Linked DNA regions of Homo sapiens. The protein of the gene in region 2 purifies or fractionates together with the protein of the main gene of each other region. This does not show direct contact. Each region holds a gene or a part of one and is shown on either strand. Other genes may lie near its edges.

Region 1 (3,618 bases), on a different chromosome or scaffold from region 2:
CCTGGGTGACAGAGTGAGACCCCCATCTATAAAAAATATATCCTCTTGAAAATTCATCAAGCTGCACACTTTTTTGCACATCAAGCGTACTTTTTTGGTTGTAAAGTACACTTCATTTTCCTTCCCTCTTATCTTTAATTGTGGTAAAATACAGCTAACATTCACCACCTCGGCCACTTAAACACAGTTCAGTAGCATTAAGTATATTGATATTCTTGTGCAATAATGAAGAGTTTGTGCAGATGGTAGCCAATTACATCCCAAGAGGGCTAGGAGAGTGTTTCATTTGTTCTAAGCACTATGACAAGTAAAGTGGACTTCTTTTTTTTTTTTTTTTTTTTCTGAGACAGGGTCTTGCTCTGTCGCCCAGGCTGGAGTGCAGTGGCATGACCTCAGCTCACGGCAACCTCCGCCTCCCAGGCTCAAGTGATCCTCCCACCCCAGCCTCCCAAATAGTTGGGACCACAGGCACCTGCCACCATGCCCAGCTATTTTCCTGTATTCTTTGTAGAGACGGGGTTTCACCATGTTGTCCAGGCTGAGGTCTTGAACTCCTGACCTCAAGTGATCTGCCTGCCTCGGTCTCCCAAAGTGCTGGGATTACAGGCATGAGCCGCTGTGCCCAGCCCTAAGTGGGCTCTTCCTAATTGCCATGTGGATGAGTTGCCTTAAAAGTCAGAAAAAATAGCAAAAGCTACAACAGAAAAATAAAAGGACACGCACGCCTCCATTGCCTGGGACCCTGTCTAACCTCAGACTTAAAAACACAAACAAGATCAAGTGCAAAGATTCAGTCTCTGTACAAAAAAGGAGAGCTTGGAGCAGGCTGGATTCCCTCTGGCTTTGATGTCTCTGACAGTTACGACGTGCAAAATCTGCTTTGGTCAAAAGACAGCAAGATGGGGGATGAGAAGCTTCGACTCATGCTAGAATGGTGTTTTCCATAGCATGCCCCTTGGAACCCTAATTCCCTGAAATATCTGGGCTGGGGTGGAGCTGCGGAGGTTGAGAAGCTCTTCAAACAGTGGCGCAGTCAAGGTCAAATCCATCTGGAAGGTGCTACATATTCCCCTTTCCCTCATTGAGACACAAAACACACAACAGGACACTTGAGTCTCTGGCAGATCCGGAAACCTGAAAGCTGTTTTGCTCCTACGAGCCTTGGGTCCCCAAAACAACATTTAGCCACAGATTTGCCAAATGTTTTGAGAATGTTTTCCTAAAAATTTGCCAAATTTTTGAGAAAATTCAGTGAGCCTGACAAATTAATAATACTAATACTAGTAATAATAGTTGCTAAGTCTTTTTTTTTTTTTTTTTTTTTTGACACAGAGTCTCGCTCTGTTACCCAGGCTGGAGTGCAGTGACGCAATCTCAGCTCACTGCAACCTCCACGTTTCTGGGTTCAAGTGATTCTCGTGCCTCAGCCTCCCAAGTAGCTGGGACTACAGGCATGCGCTACCATGCCTGGCTAATTTTTGTATTTTTAGTAGAGATGAGGTTTCACCATATTGGCCAGGCTGGTCTTGAACTCCAGGCCTCAAGCAATCCTCCCACCTTGGCCCCCCAAAGTGCTGGGATTACAGGCGTGAGCCACCGCAGCTGGCCACAAACTCTGCACTGTGACTCTTGGGCTGCGTCATTCTGTGTCGTGAGGGGAGCTCTTCCGTGCATTGTGGGATGTTCCGCAGCATCCCTGGTCTCTGCCCACCTGATGCCAGTAGCACCCCTTCCTCCACTCATGACAATCAAAAATGTCTCCAGACACTGCTAGATGTCCCCTGGGGTGGCAAAACTGCTTCCAGTTGAGAACCACAGCTTTAGAATAAAAACAAGGGCTGTCTTGGGAAAGGCAGTTAAAGCTGAGAGCAGCTCTCACTTAGTCAAACTCAACTCGGAATACCAACTGCAGAAGATCAGACGGGGGCAAGGTGAACACACTGGACCAGAGACGGACCGCCAGTTGGCCCAACCCCAGGGACACTCTTCATCTACCTTGATGCACCTTCCCAACCCTCCCTCCTCCACCATCGCTCATGTTTAAGGTCCTGCATCAGCTCCAAGGGCTGAAAGGACATCTCTGAAATTACTACCCAGAACTGCTGACCACGAAGTACAGTTCACTCATCAAGAGCTGCTCTCAATGTTTTTGGTTGGGGGAAGGGTCTCACTATATGCCCAGGGTGGAGTGCAGTGGTGCAATCATAGCTTACTGCAGGCTCAAACTCATGGGCTCAAGGGATCCTCCCACCTCAGGTGTGGGCCACTATGCCCGGCTTATTTTTTGTAGAGATGGGGGTCTTGCTATTTTGCCTAGGCTGGTCTCAAACTCCTGATCTCAAATGATCCTCCTGCCTTGGCTTCCCAAAGCTCTAGGATGACAGGCGTGAGTCACCTCGTCCAACTTTCTCGAATGTTTGGATGAAAACAAATGACTCTGTCACCTTTGGCATTAGCGATGTTTGACACATCTGAGTGTGTCAGCCTTGTTTACAGTCCTGTCCTGACCAACAACTGCTTCATTCTTTTTTTTTGAGACAGGGTCTGGCTCTGTTGCCCAGGCTAGAGTGAAGTGGCGCGATCTCTGCTTTCTGCAAACTCTGCCTCCCAGGCTCAAGCCATTCTCCCACCTCAGCCTCCCAAGTAGCTGGGATCACAGGCACGCACCAGAACACCCAGCTAATTTTTTAATTCTTGCATTTTTTTGTAGAGACAGGGGTCTCACTTTGTGGCCCAGGCTGGTCTCAAACTCCTGAGCTCAAGCGATCTGCCTGCCTCAGCCTCCCAAAGTGCTAGGATTACAAGCATGAGCCACCGCGCCCAGGCTGCTTCATTTTTTGAGCACAAACAAGCTAATCATTAGCCTCTGGAAGACCTTAGGATGTCAAGTAACGAGTCTCAGCTTTGCCCCAAACCTGCTGGGTGACTCTGGACAAGTCACTTGCCCTCTCTGGGCCTTGTATTTTTCATTTAGGGAAAATAAATCAATGGTAGGCTGGCCCAGCTCTACCATTTTATGGGACCCGTCTGTGACTCCCAGTCAAAGGGCTGAAACTGGACCAACTGAGAATGTCAGGTTGCTTTAGTTTGTTTTACCATCAGTTTCATTTTTCCCAGAAGAACTCAGGGGCAAAAGATCTTGCCCTCTCTGCTTCAGCATTAATAAAAAGTAAATTAGGCCGGGCATGGTGGCTGATGCCTGTAATCCCAGTACTTCGGGAGGCCGAGGCAGGCGGATAACCTGAGGTCAGTAGTTCAAGACCAGCCTGGCCAACATGGTGAAACCCCGTCTCTACTAAAAATACAAAAAATAGCCAGGTGTGGTGGTGGGCGCCTGTAATACCAGCTACTCAGGAGGCTGAGGAAGGAGAATCGCTTGAACCCAGGAGGTGGAGGGTGCAGTGAGCTGAGATCCCATCACTGCACTCCAGCCTGGGCGACAAGAGCAAAACTCTGTCTTGAAAATAAATAAATAAATAGTAAATTAAATATCCCAGAGCCCAGAGAGTATAGGATTTGCACATCACCTCACCTGGTCAACAGCTTCCCTCAGGATTTTACTGCCAAGCCATTGGCTAAAGATTTTGGACCAGAGACAAAAACCCAAATGTTTTTGGA
Region 2 (3,618 bases):
GTCATCTCTTCAAATTTCCTTTACCAATGATATATAGCACAATTTTTGATGTCTAGATGGTGCTGTAGGAAGATGACTAAGGCAACCACGTGCAGAAAAGCATGTGTGTGATGCACAGAAAATATAAAGATTGCATTCCAAAAGTGAAGGTCTGCAATGATAGTTTGTTATCTGAAAGGTTTGGAGTGTCTTGTCATTAAAAAATGAAATATACGCCACTGGAGTCATATCACAAATGGTGCCTGATGTGGACACTCTACCTTTAAAATGACTTTTTAAACAGGCAGACATTTCTATGCTGTTTTATAGGTGGCTATGTGACTTCAGTACTTTATAATAAATAGCCAGTCAATCTTGAGAGCCAGCTACTTCTCTTAAACCCAAGTACAAGATATAAATATTCAAAATATGGAATGTTTAACATAGAGACTCGAATGAAAAAATGACAATCTTCAAAATTCCCCATGTTTTGTCATATTGCATAGCTGAAAATTCATCTACTACTTAGTAAAAAGTGCTCTGTTCATTCAAGCTGAATTTTGCTCCAGTCTCCTTCAGTTTCCATCTTTCATACTGAATAGTGGATCCACAAGTTTATTGTGCACATGCATTAGACCTTAAAGAAAAAAAGCACAGTTCTAGTTGTTTTTATTAATTTTGAACTATCTCATTTACTTTAGACAACAAAGTATTTTTTATAAGACACAGTAAGCCTGTTTAGTTCCCATCTTGATATAGTCAAGTTTATTGAAAAAGTACAAATAGAAATGTTTCAGAATGTCTTAAGTTTTATCTACCTAGCAAATACCAATTTATAATTATGTAACAGTGCAGATCTAGAATGTGTACAGGTACTTTGGGAGTAACCAGAAGAGCATTTCTTGTCTTCAAAGAGATTAAGCATGACAAATTTGAATACTGACTTAGATAATAGGTTTTAATTATATCTAAAAGTCTATGTTGATATTGATCCTCTGGCAGTTCCTCTACTAGACTCCAGCCAGGGGCTCAGAACTGCTGTCTCACTCTTAATACATTACCCTATCCATTCGTCTGGTAAATTACTTTCCAATAGTTTGGCATGTGTATTTATGACAAAGGTTGATTACAAATTCTACACTGAGGGAGGGTTACTAAAACAAGACAGAAAACAACCTGTATTAAATCATTTAATTCAGAATAGAAATTACGATTTTAAATCCGGTAGATTATAACTTTCATTTTGTAATTGGTACATATACTTGCAGACTGCTCTTAGCTATGGAAGCTGCTTGGGAAATAGCTGATCTTCCAGTTACTCCTGTTTTAATGCCTCAGTACTATATTTCTTTGGGGAGAAAAAAGTTCTAAAAAGACTGACCCAGTTAATGAACCAGAGATTTTATATTTTGGAGGGTAAAGAAATGAGTTAAGTTTTCCAGGTATTAAGAACATGGGAGGGTGGGGAAAGGCACTTAATGCGGTTTTGCAGGAAATGGGATTACTGGATTGGAGAGATAGGTTGCTTGTTAGTAAACAGATGTTCCTTGTCAGAAAGGCTGCAAAAAGGACTCTAAAATCCCAGCTTTGAGAAAGACCCACTTTTAAGGGACAAGCAAAGAGTACTGGGAAGTGTTTGTGTAGTAGGAGAAATTCTAACCATAAGAATGGGACTCTAAAGGAGGGAAGGGGGAAGCATTCCATTCACTAGTCCTGCAACTGCTCAACAGCCTACTTGAAGGTCACCTGAAACTTCATGTCCAGTAGGAGAGGGGACAACAAAGATAAGGGTAATATCAGCTGTATGATTTAGAAGATGCAACATTTTCCAGAGTATCACTTTGTAGAGGATCGTTTTTCTACTTAAATAGTATTCATCTGTCATTTGCTAACAACTTTGATTACGGAAAGAATACACAGAGCTTTAAAATACATGCAAATTAAAATATCAGTAAATATTAAAAATTCAACTCCTTTATAAAATTTTTTTCTTTACATTGGATATATCTTTTATACATCAAATAGGACTGCTTCCAAACTAGAAATAATTATTTTGAAAATTCTATTAATTGCTTTTTAGATATTAAGTCAAATATTTACTGTGACTTTAGGTAAAAACTGACAACTTTCTACATACGAATTTTATATAAATAAATAATTGCTACTTAAGTCAAACAGAAATAATTCTTCTGATAAAAATGCACCAGACTTCCTGAAACGTTACCAGAAGAAAGGTTAAATGTCACAGATTCTAACCAATGTCTATACAAAGTAACTTTTATGGTTTTGACTCAAAATGAACTCATTCTACCTTTGTCAAACTACTGAGGTGGAGCCTAAATACAAAGTAAGAGAAAAAAATTCATGATGATGATGTCATATACTAAAAATCAAAGCTGTTCTATTTAAAAAGCAAAAATGAAAAGCGAGAATGAATAAAACAAATCCCCACGTACTAAACTTGTTGTCTTGTGATTAACTTGTATCTTTCAAAAGGTATATACCGTTATATAGGTATATATTGAAATAAACTTGCATTTACTGACAATTTTTATTGTTTTGGATCTAGTTAACCTAGATCTTATCTAGGCACTAAATAAAACCCTTTAAGATTCTGGTCAGCACTTTTTAGTGATGACAGAAGAAAGGGTAGTGATGTGAATGGAATTTGAAGAGTTATGGATGACAATTATAGGAATTTACATCCTCCAGTATTTTGATATACTAGTAACTCAATGGAGGTATGAAAAGTATACAAACTACATTTGAAATGTGTTTATTTAAGAATATTCAATTTCTCTACCCTTTACTAAAATGCTGTAAAATGAGGCCCATATGTAGCCCAGAATGTCTAAATTCTGTCTTCATATTGAAGGAGGTATCCTAACAGGCTGATACCCTGAAACCTCTTCAGAAATACAGACAGCTCCAAAGTGGAAAATACTGTGTCCTCTTGATGCAGTGCAGCTATCCTCTCACGAATGGTCTGTTTCAAAATTTTTCAGAAGAGCTTACAATTAGATGAACTAAAAGAACTAAATACATATAAACATCTACCACCCTTCTATTTTAAATTATCTAACATATGTCGATATACCTTTTTTGGAAGCAGTGATTATCATATGGGAAAAAAGCAGATGGAAATATGGTTTTGATGTAGATGGTATCATACCTAGAGTTTATTCTGGGAGGCAGTATAATAGAATAGACAAAAGCCTGCATACTCCAGAGATCAGCCTGATTTTGATTTCTATTACCCAGCTCTGCCCAAATATGTGCTGTATGACTTTGGGTAAGTAGCTTAACGTCTCTGTCTGTTAAGCCTATTAATTTAAAAATGGGACTATGAATACCCATTTCATAACATTTTTGTGATAAGTAAATCAATAAGTAAAATGCATTTAGAATAGTGCCTGGTCATAGAGATACTGGCTGTTATTAAATATCTTATTAAATATTCACCAAGATATAAAAATCTGATAAAAACCTAATTGTGACAAAATTAGATTAGTACAGGGATTTATCTGGGACTTAATGAGGACTAGAAAATGGCCATGTTAAATGAATCTCCTTAAAACTGGAATTAAAATTTGTGGATAGTGAGGATTCCTTGTAGTCAAGGAATCTATTATTTGGGAT

What was found.
Region 1: the proteins of GNPDA2 (region 2) and MYH11 purify together in Homo sapiens (affinity purification with mass spectrometry; one large-scale study listed by BioGRID and IntAct). This does not show direct contact.

Annotation. Positions count from the first base shown.
Region 1 is NC_000016.10:15,846,926-15,850,543, forward strand, and holds part of MYH11 (myosin-11), read right to left. Parts: intron 1-3,618. UniProt on the Homo sapiens protein: Muscle contraction.
Region 2 is NC_000004.12:44,702,527-44,706,144, forward strand, and holds part of GNPDA2 (glucosamine-6-phosphate deaminase 2), read right to left. Parts: intron 617-3,618; coding exon 555-616; 3' UTR 1-554. UniProt on the Homo sapiens protein: Catalyzes the reversible conversion of alpha-D-glucosamine 6-phosphate (GlcN-6P) into beta-D-fructose 6-phosphate (Fru-6P) and ammonium ion, a regulatory reaction step in de novo uridine diphosphate-N-acetyl-alpha-D-glucosamine (UDP-GlcNAc) biosynthesis via hexosamine pathway.